4 linked regions of the Homo sapiens genome follow. The protein of the gene in region 1 purifies or fractionates together with the protein of each later gene. This does not show direct contact. Each region holds a gene or a part of one and is shown in the gene's direction. Other genes may lie near its edges.

The links. The genes of interacting proteins can lie anywhere in the genome.
Region 2: the proteins of ARIH1 (region 1) and KCTD3 purify together in Homo sapiens (affinity purification with mass spectrometry; 3 studies listed by BioGRID and IntAct, with this or other methods). This does not show direct contact.
Region 3: the proteins of ARIH1 (region 1) and PIP5K1A purify together in Homo sapiens (affinity purification with mass spectrometry; 3 studies listed by BioGRID and IntAct, with this or other methods). This does not show direct contact.
Region 4: the proteins of ARIH1 (region 1) and FBXW11 purify together in Homo sapiens (affinity purification with mass spectrometry; 8 studies listed by BioGRID and IntAct, with this or other methods). This does not show direct contact.

What each region holds. Positions count from the first base shown.
Region 1 is NC_000015.10:72,480,830-72,484,329, forward strand, and holds part of ARIH1 (E3 ubiquitin-protein ligase ARIH1), read left to right. Parts: intron 1-3,500. UniProt on the Homo sapiens protein: E3 ubiquitin-protein ligase, which catalyzes ubiquitination of target proteins together with ubiquitin-conjugating enzyme E2 UBE2L3.
Region 2 is NC_000001.11:215,601,804-215,605,303, forward strand, and holds part of KCTD3 (BTB/POZ domain-containing protein KCTD3), read left to right. Parts: intron 1-63; coding exon 64-151; intron 152-281; coding exon 282-398; intron 399-2,328; coding exon 2,329-2,499; intron 2,500-3,500. UniProt on the Homo sapiens protein: Accessory subunit of potassium/sodium hyperpolarization-activated cyclic nucleotide-gated channel 3 (HCN3) up-regulating its cell-surface expression and current density without affecting its voltage dependence and kinetics.
Region 3 is NC_000001.11:151,229,552-151,233,051, forward strand, and holds part of PIP5K1A (phosphatidylinositol 4-phosphate 5-kinase type-1 alpha), read left to right. Parts: intron 1-2,119; coding exon 2,120-2,250; intron 2,251-2,696; coding exon 2,697-2,814; intron 2,815-2,999; coding exon 3,000-3,152; intron 3,153-3,500. UniProt on the Homo sapiens protein: Catalyzes the phosphorylation of phosphatidylinositol 4-phosphate (PtdIns(4)P/PI4P) to form phosphatidylinositol 4,5-bisphosphate (PtdIns(4,5)P2/PIP2), a lipid second messenger that regulates several cellular processes such as signal transduction, vesicle trafficking, actin cytoskeleton dynamics, cell adhesion, and cell motility.
Region 4 is NC_000005.10:171,902,139-171,905,638, reverse strand, and holds part of FBXW11 (F-box/WD repeat-containing protein 11), read left to right. Parts: intron 1-3,500.

The sequences.
Region 1 (3,500 bases):
TCTGGGATCACAGTGAGCCACCTTGCCCGGCCTTGTTTTGTTTTTAATCTGGGACTGAAAATGAGGGAGTTGAAATACTAGGTTGGTCCTTTTTTACATTAAGTGTTTTATTCGTTTAACATCATTTTAAAAACCTCAGTTAATTGGAGATGTTCATTTTTTCCAAGAAATTGAATTCAGGTGTGCATATTGTGGTTATGTTCATTAATTGGGAGAGGAGGAAGAGGGTGTACAAGCCTGTGCATGATGTGTGCAGGCACATGTGTTTTGAAGTTATTAAAGTGTTTGATATAGTTTAGATTTATTTCTTTTGGACTTTTATATTTTCCCAGCTGATCTCCTTGAGCTGTAAGTTTAAATTACACTGACTTGTTGAATTGCTATGGCAGTAGTCCTATGAATCAAACTCTGGGGATGGGGTCTGGCTGTCTGTTTTAACAAGCCTTCTAGGTGATGGTGATGCAAGCTAAAGTTTGAGAACTGCTGATGTAGTTGAAATTTAATAGCAGTGTTTCTCTATGTGTTACGTGTAGTGATAGATTACTACAGAGGTGGGTTAATGAGGGAAGATAAATTGTTTAAGAAACTAATAATAGGGGACCAGTCACGGTGGCTCACACCTGTAATCCCAGCACTTTGGGGACTGTGCCAGGCAGATCACTTGAGGTCAGGAGTTTGAGACCAGCCTGGCCAATATGGTGAAACACTAGCTGGGCGTGGTGGCCTGTGCCTGTAATCCCAGCTACTTGGGAGACTTGAGGCAGGAGAATTGCTTGAACCTGGGAATTGGAGGTTGCAGTGAGCTGAGATAGTGTCACTGCACTCTAGCCTGGGTGACAGAGGGAGACTCTACTTCAAAAAAAAGGTAATAATGGGAAAATTTCCAGAACCTAGGCAACGTTTACTAGGCTAATCATAGGGTTGGAAGATGTTTGTCATCGTAGATGCTATCCTTCATGCTATGCTATCCTTCAGCTAAGGTGGTCTTTACTCAGTATTTTCTTTTCTTTTCTTTTCTTTTTTGGAGACAGAGTCTTTTCTCTCTTGCCCAGGCTGGGGTGCAGTGGCGCCATCTCGGCTCACTGCAACCTTCGCCTGCTGGGTTCAAGCGATTCTCCTCCTTCAGCCTCCCGAGTAGCTGGGATTACAGGCGCCCACCACTACGCCCGGCTAATTTTGTATTTTTGGTAGAGACGGGGTTTCACCATGTTGGCCAGGCTGATCTCGAACTCCTGACCTCAGGTGATCCACCCGACTTGGCCTCCCAAAGTGCTGGGATTACAGGCATGAGCCACTGCACCCGGCCAGTATTTTCAAATAGACAAACTAAACTAGTGACATCTGACATTCTAGATTGGAGTTCTTGATTTCCCTTCCAGTCCTAGATTTTTTTAATATAGAATGTTGAGTTTTCTAATTTATTAGTATGCTGGAAGAGATATAAAGTCCTGGATAGATATAAAGTCCTGTTTAAAGGAATATGAGAAGACTTATTCTTAAGGAGTTGAGAATCTCTTAGAGTTAAAGCTGTTAGGTTAGTGAGTAATTTAAATAAGTGGATAGTAATAGATACTCATGGAAGAGACCTCTGTAGGTGTTGTCAAAGATGGCTAGGATTTGGGTGGATAAAAAAGAGGAAGTCATTCTAAGGAACTGAATGAGGTGAGAATGAGGAGAGTTTTTGGGTAATGGTGAAATCAGCTAAAGTAGAATGGAGCTTATAAATGCTGGATAATAATGTAGAACCTGGGAGATTAAATACTGTGATGAAAGGTAAGCAGAAGTCATCACATTAGATTCTTTTGGGGTTGACCTGTGGTAACTATGTAGATTGGTTATCTTTTGCCTTATGTTACCCCAAAACTTAGTGGCTTAAAAAAACAAGGATCTGTTATATCATAGTTTCTGTGAGTCACAATTCTGGATGCAGCTTACCTGGGGGCCTCTGGCTTATGGTCTCTTACAAGGCTGCAACCAAGGTGACGGCTTGGTAGCAGTTCTCTCTCTCTCTTTTTTTTTTTTTTTTTTAAAGACAGAGGCTTGCTGTGGTGCCCAGGCTGGAGTGCAATGGCATAATCTCGGCTCATTGCAACCCTCACCTCTTGAGTCCAAGTGATCCTCTTACCTCAGCCTCCTGAGTAGTTGGGACTATAGATGTGCACCACCACACCCCAGCTTATTTTTTTGTTTTTGTGGGTTTTTTGGTAGAGACCAGTATTTTTTTGTTTTGCCATGTTGCCTAGGCTGCTCTTGAACACCTTAATTCAAGGGATCTGCCCGCCTTAGCCTCCTAAAGTGCTGGGATTACAGGCATGAGCCACCGTGTCTGGCCTGGGTAGCAGTCCTCAAGGCTTGACTGGGGAAGCTTCCCCTTCCGAGCTCACTCATTTGGCTGTGACCAGGCCAGATTTTCACTGGCTGGTTGTTGCCCAGAGATATCAGTTCCTTGCCATGTGGGCCTCTCCATAAAGTGGCTGACAACACAGTAGCTTGTTTCCTCCAGAGTGAGGGATCTTAGAGAAAAGGCCCATACGATGGAAGCCACAAAGTTTTTATAACTTAATTTCAGAAGTAACGTCGCATCACTTTGCAATATTCTATTTGTTGTAAGTGAATAACCAAATCCAGCCCATACTCAATCGGAGGGGATTATACAAAGATGTGAAGACCAGGAGGCAGGGGTCTTTGGGGGCTATCTTAGAGGCCGGCTGTTTGTCTCTGTCTCTCTCTGTTAAGAGGTAAATTACAGCTATTGTATAATGCCTTTCTATCCAATCTTTTTGTATGCTATTGGGAGAACATAGTGTTTTGGATTTTTTATTTTGGATTAACCGTAAATTAATTACTTTTGGCTTTGCAAAACATTATACCTGTAAATGATAAACATTCCTAATAACCTTTCAGTGGCTTAAGTTTAAAATAGCTTGTAGTCTCAGAATTGGTAGGAATTTGAGATTCTCCAGTTTACTGATTTTTTTTTTTTTTAACTCTAGCTACGTAATGGAATCACCTGGGGATTTTTTTCATTACTGTTTTTAAAATAGAAAATTGTAGATTCACAGCCGGGCATGGTGGCTCACGCCTGTAATCCCAGCACTTTGGGAGGCCGAGGCAGGCGGATCACCTGAAGTCAGGAGTTCGAGACCAGCCTGGCCAAATGGCGAAACCCCGTCTCTACTAAAAAAATACAAAAATTAGCCGGGCATGGTGGTGGGCGCCTGTAATCCCAGCTACTCGGGAGGCTGAGGCAGGAGAATCACTTGAACCCAGGAGACAGAGGTTGCAGTGAGCCAAGATTATGCCATTGCACTCCAGCCTGGGCAACAAGAGTGAAACTCCATCAAAAAAAAAAAAAAAAAAGAAGAAAAGAAAAGAAAATTGTAGATTCACATGCAGTTACAAGAAATAATGCAAAAATCCCACATATTCTTTTTTCCAAAAAATTTTATTTCCCTAGGTTATTGGGGAAGAGGTGGTATTTGGTTACATAAGTAAATTCT
Region 2 (3,500 bases), on another chromosome or scaffold:
ATTGACCAGAAAATAGAAATTATAATTACTATCTAACATCTGATAATACTCTCACTACATCAGGTTCAAGATGTTGTTCCTATAACTAGTTATGACACTGCTGGATCATTCCTTCTGCTTGGATGTAACAATGGATCAATATATTACATAGGTAAGTGTTCAGTCACTTAAAATGCTCCTGCTTAATGTAATTTTTTAAATGAGAACAAGAAAACATTACCTTTCAGTTTTAAATAGATATGCTATTTATTTTAATGCTGTTTAAAATTTTTATGTTTTAGATATGCAGAAGTTCCCCTTGCGAATGAAAGATAATGATCTTCTTGTAACTGAACTGTATCATGATCCTTCAAATGATGCTATTACTGCTCTGAGTGTTTACCTCACACCCAAAACAAGTTAGTACATGGCCAATTATATACATTCTTGACTTTTTATCTTTTTATTCATTAGTTTATTATGTGACTAGGTCAAATTAAACTGGTTTATTTCTTTTTGAGAACTGCAGTGCCTAAGGATTTCATCTCTACTAAGTCTAAAATTTGTATTCAGTTTTATACTGAAGTCAAACATGACCAGTAAACAAACATAATTTGAGGTGGAAAATTGGAACTCCCCTTACGCTGAATTGCATTTGTTGAGCCATATTATTATAATGTTAGCTGAAATTTCAAAAAAAAAAAAAATTCTGCACATTTGTCTTCCTATTAAAATAACTAATTTTTCACTTAAAAATTAGGAGCTTTTTAAAAAATAAAAAGTTCTTAGACTACTGCTGGAAACTAAGCTTATTTTCTTGGGAATTTAAAAATTTAAGCTGTAGAAAAAAGGCATTTTATAACTTTCAGTGCATTTTAGAGGCCATTGCAATAAAAGTAACAGACTAGTTCTGTAAAGTAGTAAGAATTTTTGTATTCTGGAGTAAAAGATAAGCACAAATGGGAAATTTAAAATTTATCTGTAATGAAAGGAGTTCTAAGAAACAATTTGTATTCAGTAATACTAATAGGTTTGGATGTGCTACTTATATAAGTCATCATTTCATTTAAGTTATTAAAAGAAACCATAATTTTTAGTATGAAAGAAATATTCAAGAGTATACCTATGAATTTGACTGAAACCATAGTAGGACTTAAATTGTATTGCTCTAGAAATAGGGTTTAGTAAACCACGGATTTCTAGCCAAGCTGGCTCTTTTTGATACCACTGTCTTTGGATGTTTTTATGCCACAATGACAGAATTGAGAGGTTGTGACAGAGACAGTGTGGCATGCAGAGTTTAAAATGTTTACTACTTGGCCCCTTACGGAAAGTGTACCAACCCCTGCTCTAGAATGAGCTGTGGATTTTTTTTTTAAATCTAGTTAAAAGGCAGGCATAAAACTGGGAAAGTTTTACAAATCAAAGCACTTCTTTTGTAGTGGCAGGGGGATTTTAAGGCATGAAAAATGGAGTCATCTTTCTGGTTCTAGGAGGTGTTTTTCATGACATGCTTTTTTTCCTTTGATTCAAGTATTTTCAGATGAATCAGTTAGTAAAACTAGAACAGCCAGTAAAGCTAAGATGTTCTCTATCCATGAAGCTTTTAAGAGTATAGGTCACTGAATTTTTTCCTATCTAAATTTGCAATGGGGTCTGGGCACTTTTTGAAAAAAAGAAAACAAAAGACACAGCTGAACCTTAGATGATTAGAAGAAACAACATATTTTAAGTATGATGTAAGCAATGTAATGGGTATGTTTATTCCCTAGCACAGTGTTTTGAAACTTAAATAGTATATTTAATGCTTGATTATTTGAGAATGATTTAGTATTGTAGTTTAAGTAAAGCAGATGGTAATTCTAGGCTAGACATAATAAGGAATATTGCTTTTGGAATACTATGCTGTTTCAGTAGTGTTCTTGGCATGGCAGATTTATGAATTCTTTAAACTATGTTGAGTACCTGCGGTGTCTCAGGCACTCTGTGAGGTGACAGATAAAAAGATGATTATGATTCAGTCTTTGTCAATAAGGAATAGAAGTAGCTAGACATAGAAATAAGTACAGAATTAGTGTGTTATAATTACTGTGATAGAACCTAATAGTGCAAGGCAGGAGGTGAATAGTTACGTCTTGGAGTGAGGGTTAGGAAAAGATTTATCAAGGAAATAATGATTTTAAGATGACCGGAGAAGTCTTAAGATTTTTTTTTTTACTGAACTGGATTTGGGGCTGATATAAACAGTGAATCCAGCTCTGCCTATTTTATCATAGGGAAGCTTTGCGAGGGTAGCTTTTTTATTATCGTTCCATAATGTATCACCTGTCAACTCTTGACTTTATATAGGTGTCAGTGGTAACTGGATCGAGATCGCCTATGGTACGAGCTCTGGAGCAGTACGAGTGATTGTACAACACCCAGAGACAGTTGGGTCAGGTCCTCAGCTTTTTCAGACTTTCACAGTTCACCGAAGTCCCGTAACAAAAATCATGCTATCAGAGAAGCATCTTGTATCAGGTAAAATGATTTCATTATACTGGTAAGGAACTTGGCTCTGTGTGTTATTTTCATTAAAAGAATGAAAACGCAGTGTTTATGTGAGAAAAATATACTAAAAGAAGTACTAGAAAAGTTTAATGACTGAAGAAATTATGATTGTCTTTTAAAGATTTCTTTGAGCTGGTCGTGGTGGCTCATGCCTATAAATCCTAGCAGTTTAGGAGGCCAAGGCAGGTGGATTGGTTTAGCCCAGGAGTTGAAGACTAGCCTGGGCAACATGGTGAAACCCCACCTCTACCAAAAAAGAGGAAAACAAAAAAAAGATGTTTTTTATTTTACCTGGTTTTAATATACTTAAATTTAGGAGATGTGATTTTTTTTTTTTTTTTTGCTCTCTTGGCATATCTTATTGCAAAATATTTATTATGACCCTGCTAAGAGGAATTTTTATTAAATTTTTCAAGTTTTACTTTTAATATAAATTGGGTTGATTATATTATGGTTTAATGCTAAAACTGTAGATTTAAATGTGTATTTTGATATTTTGTCATCTCAAAAATAATAAAAATTACAATTGTAGAGATTATTTGAAGAAAATAAGCTTTTCTTGGGTTTGTAGTTCTTCATAATATAAAATTTTTAATTAAATATTAATTGGATACATAAAAAATTAAATACTAATTTTCAAGTTTAACGAATAGTACTTTCTGATTACAAAGTAAAATTCTATTGAAGAAATTCATTGTGTATGGAAGATGATTTCTAAAAGGCTTTGTGAAAATTGCATTGTGAGTTGGGTGTGTCAGTAAAGCTTGCTTTCTAGAGGAGTCTTACATTAACTCCTTTTGTAGAGCAGTTCTTGCCCAACTTAAAATTTTTACAAACATGGTTTTCATGTGTCAGATTTGTTTTTGTGAAGGCTGGCTAGAAGATAATGCATCTTTTGTGAAAGATGTAGTGAAAGTTTCTCAATCTAATTAAACACCATGTGGAGCTGAAATTCAGTCCATAGCTGAATG
Region 3 (3,500 bases), on another chromosome or scaffold:
GGTTTCTCCATGTTGGTCAGGCTGGTCTTGAACTCCTGACCTCAGGTAATCTGCCTGTCTCGGCCTCCCAAAGTGCTGGGATTACAGGCATGAGCCACAGCACCCGGCCATTTAGCTCTTTTTATATGTTGAACATTAAGATAAAAAGATGAGTTTCTATTATAACTGGGGAGGCAGGTACTTAAAAAAAAAAAGAAACTAATAATTTATTTTCCTTTGACCTATTTGTACATGAAAAAAACTAGTTGTAGGCTGGGCATGGTGGCTCATGCCTGTAATCCCAGCACTTTGGGAGGCCGAGGCAGGTGGATAACGAGGTCAGGAGATCGAGATCATCCTGGCTAACACGGTGAAACCCCATCTCTACTAAAAAAAAAATACAAAAAATTAGTCGGGTGTGGTGGCTTGCGCCTGTAGTCCCAGCTACTCAGGAGGCTGAGGCAGGAGAATGGTGTCAACCAGGGAGGCGGAGCTTGCAGTGAGCCAAGATCACGCCACTGCACTCCAGCCTGGGCGACAGAGCGAGACTCCGTCTCAAGAAAAAAAAAACAAAAAACTAGTTGTAATTTATTGCCCATTGAGGACCAAGTAGAAATATAAGTAATGCCTGGCCGAGGTTGGGGATGAGGCAAATGGAGCAAAGCTATCTAATCAAAGTTTCTGCAGTGATTGAAATGTGCTGTATCTGTGCTATCCAATATGGTAGCTAGTAGCCACACTTGAACTGTAAGTAGTAAGACTGAGAAAATGAAGTTTTAAATTTGAGTTAACTTAAATTTAAATAGCCATGTGTACCTAGTGGCTACTGTTATCAGACAGCAAAGATCTAGATGATGCGATACTTTCCCACGGGCTTGGAATCCTGGATTGTAAGAGTGGGGCTCTTGTATTTGTGTTTTGACCAAGTTTGATAATTCTAAGTCTGAATACTGCTCTCAGAAATAATTTGAGTCTTTCATGCTTTCTTCTTCAGTTAGGAGCTCTTTTACCACACTGTTGCCCTTTTTTTTGAGACAGTCTGGCTGTGTTACCCAGGCTGGAATGCAGTGGTGTGATCTTGGCTCACTGCAGCCTCCGCCTCCCAGCTTCAAGCAATTCTCCTGTCTCAGCCTTCTGAGTAGCTGGGACTACAGGTGCACACCACCTCATCCAGCTAATTTTTGTGTTTTTAGTAGAGACGGTTTCACCACATTGGCCAGGCTGGTCTCGAACTCTTGGCCTAAAGTGGTCTGCCCACCTCAGTCTCCCAAAGTGCTTGGATTAGAGGCGTGAGCCTCCGCCCGCGCCCACCCCACCCTGTTGGCCTTGAGACACACTAGTCAGGCCCTTCCTTAGAGGACTGAAGTTTCTGCCGCCAGGCAGTCAGATCAGAATATTGGTTAATTTTAGGGCTGGGCATGGTGGCTCATGCCCGTAATCCCAGAGCTTTGGGAGTTCTGAGGTTAGGAGCTTGAGACCAGCCTGACCAACATAGTGAAACCCCATCTGTACTAAAAATATAAAGAATAAGCAAGGTGTCGTGGTGCATGCCTGTAATCTCAGCTACTCGGGAGGCTGAGGCATGAGAATCGCTTGAACCGGGGAGGCAAAGTTTGCAGTGAGCCGAGATCATGCTGCTGTACTCCATTCCAGCCTGGGTGACAGAGTGAGACTTAGTCTCAAAAAAAAAAAAAAAAAAAAGGAATATTGGTTAATTTTAGTTACATTCGATATCAGATGAAGGAAATGTTTAGAGGGCTCCAGATACACTCTGGGGGCAGAAACCTTAGGAGTGAGAACTAAGAACGTTGTGTCAATACAATGTATCTTCCAAATACAAATATGGAACTCTTGTTTAGGCAGGCCAACAGGAGGGAGCACCTTGCCTAGCTGAGGCTGGCTCAGAGAGTCCCAGCTTTGCTACTCTGTATCCTCACTGTCCTTCCAATCTTTACTAAGCTTAATTGCAGAGTACAGCATAGGGATGGGGAAACTGGATTGTCCCAGTTTTATCTGAACTATTGCTCAGACTAAAGGATGTTTGTTTTAAAGTGTTCCTTCTAGCTTCCCCTTTCTGAATTTTTATTGTTATGATCCTACTTATACTAGGAATTTTCTTCTCATTTCTCTTGTTTCTCAGACAACCTCATCAGCCTTGAAAGGTGCCATCCAGTTAGGCATTACCCACACTGTGGGGAGCCTGAGTACCAAACCAGAGCGTGATGTCCTCATGCAAGATTTCTACGTGGTTGAGAGTATCTTCTTTCCCAGGTACAGAGTTTAATGTTCAGGAGCATGTCCTGGAAATGTGGCCTTTTCAAATCAGCCCAGGGCAGTTTTAGGGGTTCAGGTCGGACAATTTAGACATGTGTCCATTTCTTAACCTGGTTACAATCAGGGCGATGTGGGACTAGAGAGTTCGGAGAGCAGATACTGTCCTCTAGATGCTTCCATTAGCCTCTGTCCTATGGATTGACCCGTAAAAAACAACCTAATGCATTGGATAGGAGGCAGTGTGATTTCTTCTTCTTCTTATGTCTTGCTGTCCATGCTGTGCCATTGTCTCACTAACTCATCTAAGAAGGGCTGTGATTATCTTAGGAGGAATGTATTCCCCCACTCCCCCCACCATGAGGTGACTCTGAGTGTCTTCGCAAGGTAGATTCTCTGGATGATAGGGACTGGCAAGTTATGGCTACCTCTGTTTAACCCCACAGTGAAGGGAGCAACCTGACCCCTGCTCATCACTACAATGACTTTCGTTTCAAGACCTATGCACCTGTTGCCTTCCGCTACTTCCGGGAGCTATTTGGTATCCGGCCCGATGATTACTTGGTAAGCATCTGGATATCAGGACACTGTGACTCCAGTATCAGAGGGATATTCCCAAAGGAAGGCCCCTTTTCTCCACAGTCTCGCTCTGGTTTTTATTTAGAAAAGAATTGCATCTGTAGTTGATTTTTGTGTTGGGCAAGGCCCTGATGTGTCTAAATCTCTTAGTTCTTCTCTGTTTGCCCCAGTATTCCCTCTGCAGTGAGCCGCTGATTGAACTCTGTAGCTCTGGAGCTAGTGGTTCCCTATTCTATGTGTCCAGCGACGATGAGTTCATTATTAAGACAGTCCAACATAAAGAGGCGGAATTTCTGCAGAAGCTGCTTCCAGGATACTACATGGTAAGGGAGAGAGAAGCACTGTCCACCTGTGCTGCTCACTTCTGGGCAAGGCTGGGGAGGCTGTCTTCAGCAGGGTAAAACAGTGTCAGCACTTCTATCTTAAGAGTGTAGTTCAGGCCAGGCACGGTGGCTCATGCCTGTAATCCCAGGACTTTGGGAGGCCGAGGCAAGAGGATCACAAGATCAGGAGATCAAGACCATCCTGGCCAACATGGTGAAACCTCGTCTTTACTAAAAATACAAAAAATTAGCCAGGCGTGGTAGCGGGCGCCTGTAGTCCCAGCTACTCAGGAGGCTGAGACAGGAGAATGGCGTGAATCTGGGAGGCGAAGTTTGCAGTGAGCCGAG
Region 4 (3,500 bases), on another chromosome or scaffold:
ACATTTAAGGGGCCATGAGACTTATACCAAGAAAATAAAGGGGGGGGGGTTAGCTTTTTGCTGGAGGAGATGCGTAGTATTTTTTCTGCAGAAGGTAACAAGAAGAATATTGTGTATCGGCCTTGTCCATTGATATCTGCTGAGAGGATTTGGGGGAGAGTAGAACAAAGACTGATATTTCTTGAGTGAACTTCTTATTTACCTAGCTCTTTACGTATGCTGTTTTTTAAACTTTCGCAGCAAGACTGGGAGGTTCCCTCTATGTAAAATGAGGGTATGTAGAGTACCTATCTCAGAAGGTTATTGTGAAGATTATATGATGTAATTTATTTCAGACATTTAATATCATTCTGATATTATGGAAGACTGAGATCCTAAAAGGAAAACTGATCTGCTTAAGGTCACACAACTAGCAGTTGACAGAACTGAGATGCAACCTAGTTTTTCTGACTTTCAGGCAGTGTGTTTTTCACAAGACTAAAACATGCTGCCTCATAGAAGGAGGAAATGCATTTAAAGTATCAGACAAAGGAAATAGGTCAAATCTCATAGATATCACTGAGATGTTGCTTAATTGGACTGATGGCATTTGAAAGAGGAAGAAATAAGTATTAGTAAGGGATTTATTTCTGTAAAAACTCATGATAGCCTAGTTGTGAGCAATTGATGGGGGAATCAAAGAGGACTAAAAGGGATATCATTGCTATAAACCAATAGTTCCTAATACTTCAGCATTATCTAGTGGCACTTCTTAAAAATACAGATTCCTGGCTGGGCACGGTGGCTCACACCTGTAATCCCAGCACTTTGGGAGGCCGAGTTGGGTGGATCATGAGGTCAAGAGATCAAGACCATCCTGGCCAACATGGTGAAACCCCATCTGTACTAAAAATACAAAAATTACCTGGGCATGGTGGTGTGCGCCTGTAGTCCCAGCTACTCGGGAGGCTGAGGCAGGAGAATCGCTTGAACCCAGGAGGTGGAGGTTGCAGTGAGCTGAGATCCCACCACTGCACTCCATACTGGCGACAGAGTGAGAATCTGTTTCCAAAAACAACAACAACAACAAAAAAACCACACCCAGATTCCTGGGCCTTACCGTCTAGAGATTCTGATTTTGTAGGTCAGGAGAAGATTGGGGGGATCTTTTCTTTTTGCTGTTGTTTTGAAAATCAGTAACCCTGAGTTGAGTCAGATACAACCACACAGGCTTATAGACCACCCAGATAGGTTGAAGGTTTGGGTGCTGCTTTCCCGTCACAGATGATGGGGATGTTGCAGCCTTTGAGGTTTGAAAAGGCGAGTATCTAATGCATTCTTTTTATTTTTTATTTTTTTTAAAAAAAGACAGAGTCTTGCACTGTAACCCAGGCTAGAGTGCAGTGGCATGATCTCCACTTACTGCAACCGCCACCTCCTAGGTTCAAGTGGTTCTCGCGCGCCTCATCCTGCCAAGTAGCTGGGATTACAGGCGTGTGCCACCATGGCTAATTTTTGTATATTTAGTAGAGATGGAGTTTTGCCATGCTGTCCAGGCTGGTCTCAAACTCCTGGACTCAAGCGATCTGCCCATCTTGGCCTCCCAAAGTTCTAGGATTACAGGTGTGAGCCACCATGCAGCCCCTAATGCATCCTTGTCTTGCCATTTGTTTCACCTTTCAGAGAGCAGAGGGTTCTAGAGAGGAATTAGTTTGAGATGTGTTTATAACCAGTTAGGAGGATTTGGGTTAATGATGTGAAGTTTACATTACTTTAAAAGTGGCTATGTTCTCAGCCTGGGCAACATAGTGAGATCCTGTCTCTACTAAAATTTTTTTTAAAAAAAATTAGCCTGGCATGGTAGTGCATACTTGTAGTCTCAGCTACTAGGGAGGCTGAGGCAGGAGGATCACTTGATTCTGGAAGGTCAAGGCTGTAGTGAGCCATGATCATGTCACTGTACTCCAGCCTGGGCAACAGAGTGAGATGCTGTAATTAGCTATGTTCTAATATTAAGTGTAGAAATCAGAAAAGGAAGATAGATAAGTACCCCAGCGTTAGAAAGATTGAAAGAGCTAAGTCTGTTAGTCCACGGCTAGAGACTGAACAAAAATGTGATAAAAGAAGGCTGACGGATTCTGCAGTTTGAAATTCTGATGAATAATTTGTCAATCCTAGTGATGGAGAGGCACAAGCAGAACCCCACGTGATTATCCTTGGATTTCCCTGATTTTAAGTAAACATAGAAGATGGAAGAAAGGCAGCCAGGCGCAGTGGCTCACGCCTGTAATCCCAGCACTTTCAAGACCAAGGCAGGAGGATTGCTTGAGCCCAGGAGTTGGAGACCACCCCGGGCAATATAGTGAGACCTCATCTCTACAAATGATAAAAAAAAATTAGCTGGGTGTGGAGGCATGTGCCTGTAGTCCTAGTTACTTGGGAGGTTGAGGTGGGAGGATTGCTTGAACCCAGGAGTTTGAGGTGGCAGTGAGCCATGATTGTGCCACTGTACTCCAACTTGGGTGATAGAGTGAGTCCCTGTGAAACCTTTGAGAATGGTACCAAGAAGACCAAACTCCAAATAATGTTAAATTGTCCAAAATGTTGAAGTAAATTGAAAGAGTTGAAAACAAAATAATTAACTATTTGGAGCCAGATTATAAAGGATGAAGGGATAGTGTGCTTAGAATAGATAGTATAGTGATAATAGAAAGAAACAACATATTTTCACTCCCATTAACCTAATCCCACCATCCCCCCAACCCAAGAATAATGGCTTTAAAACAAAGGTTAGCAAAGTTGTGTTTGAGAAAGATGTGAAGATATTTAGCAATCACATAGCTCCTATAGACAAGTAGGCCTAAATACATTGTATGCCTGGATAGTGGCAAAACCTGTGGTTGTGATTTTTCAAATTGTAGAACATTGTGAAGCAATTGAAAATCAGTATGCAGAACTATTGGGTACAATTGTGCCCTGTACAGCTTGTACAGTTGCACATGGTAGTCTTGCATGATAGCACCAGAGATGATTGATGAGCAGACTTCCTGGTTTTAAGAACTGGAGAAGGTGTTTTTGGGGGATTTAGCTATTAAATTTGATGTTGTGCTTTAGCAGAATTCTTAGATGAGTTTCAAAGGCTAATCAGCCTCTGAAAAGATTGTGTATGGTTGTGTAAACCTAGAAGGATGTATACAGAATGTGAAAAGTGGTTCCCTTCTCTGGGAAATGGGGTTTAGGGATTTAAAAATTTTTGCTCATCTACACTTTATAAATTTTCTATAATGAACATGAACTAGATATGTTTAAAAGGGTTACCAAGCAGCTAGTGTCAACATGTAAGTGAAAAATTGCAATACAACTTTATGTAGTAAACCCCAGCACGGGAACATGAAAGCAGCCATACCCTCCTCACCTTATTTCCTTTTTGGATAAAGTTACCAGGCTAGTAGGTAGGTCTGAAGAATGATGTAAATAGATGGTAATATCATCATCTGCTGATTTTTCCAAATACCTCCGAG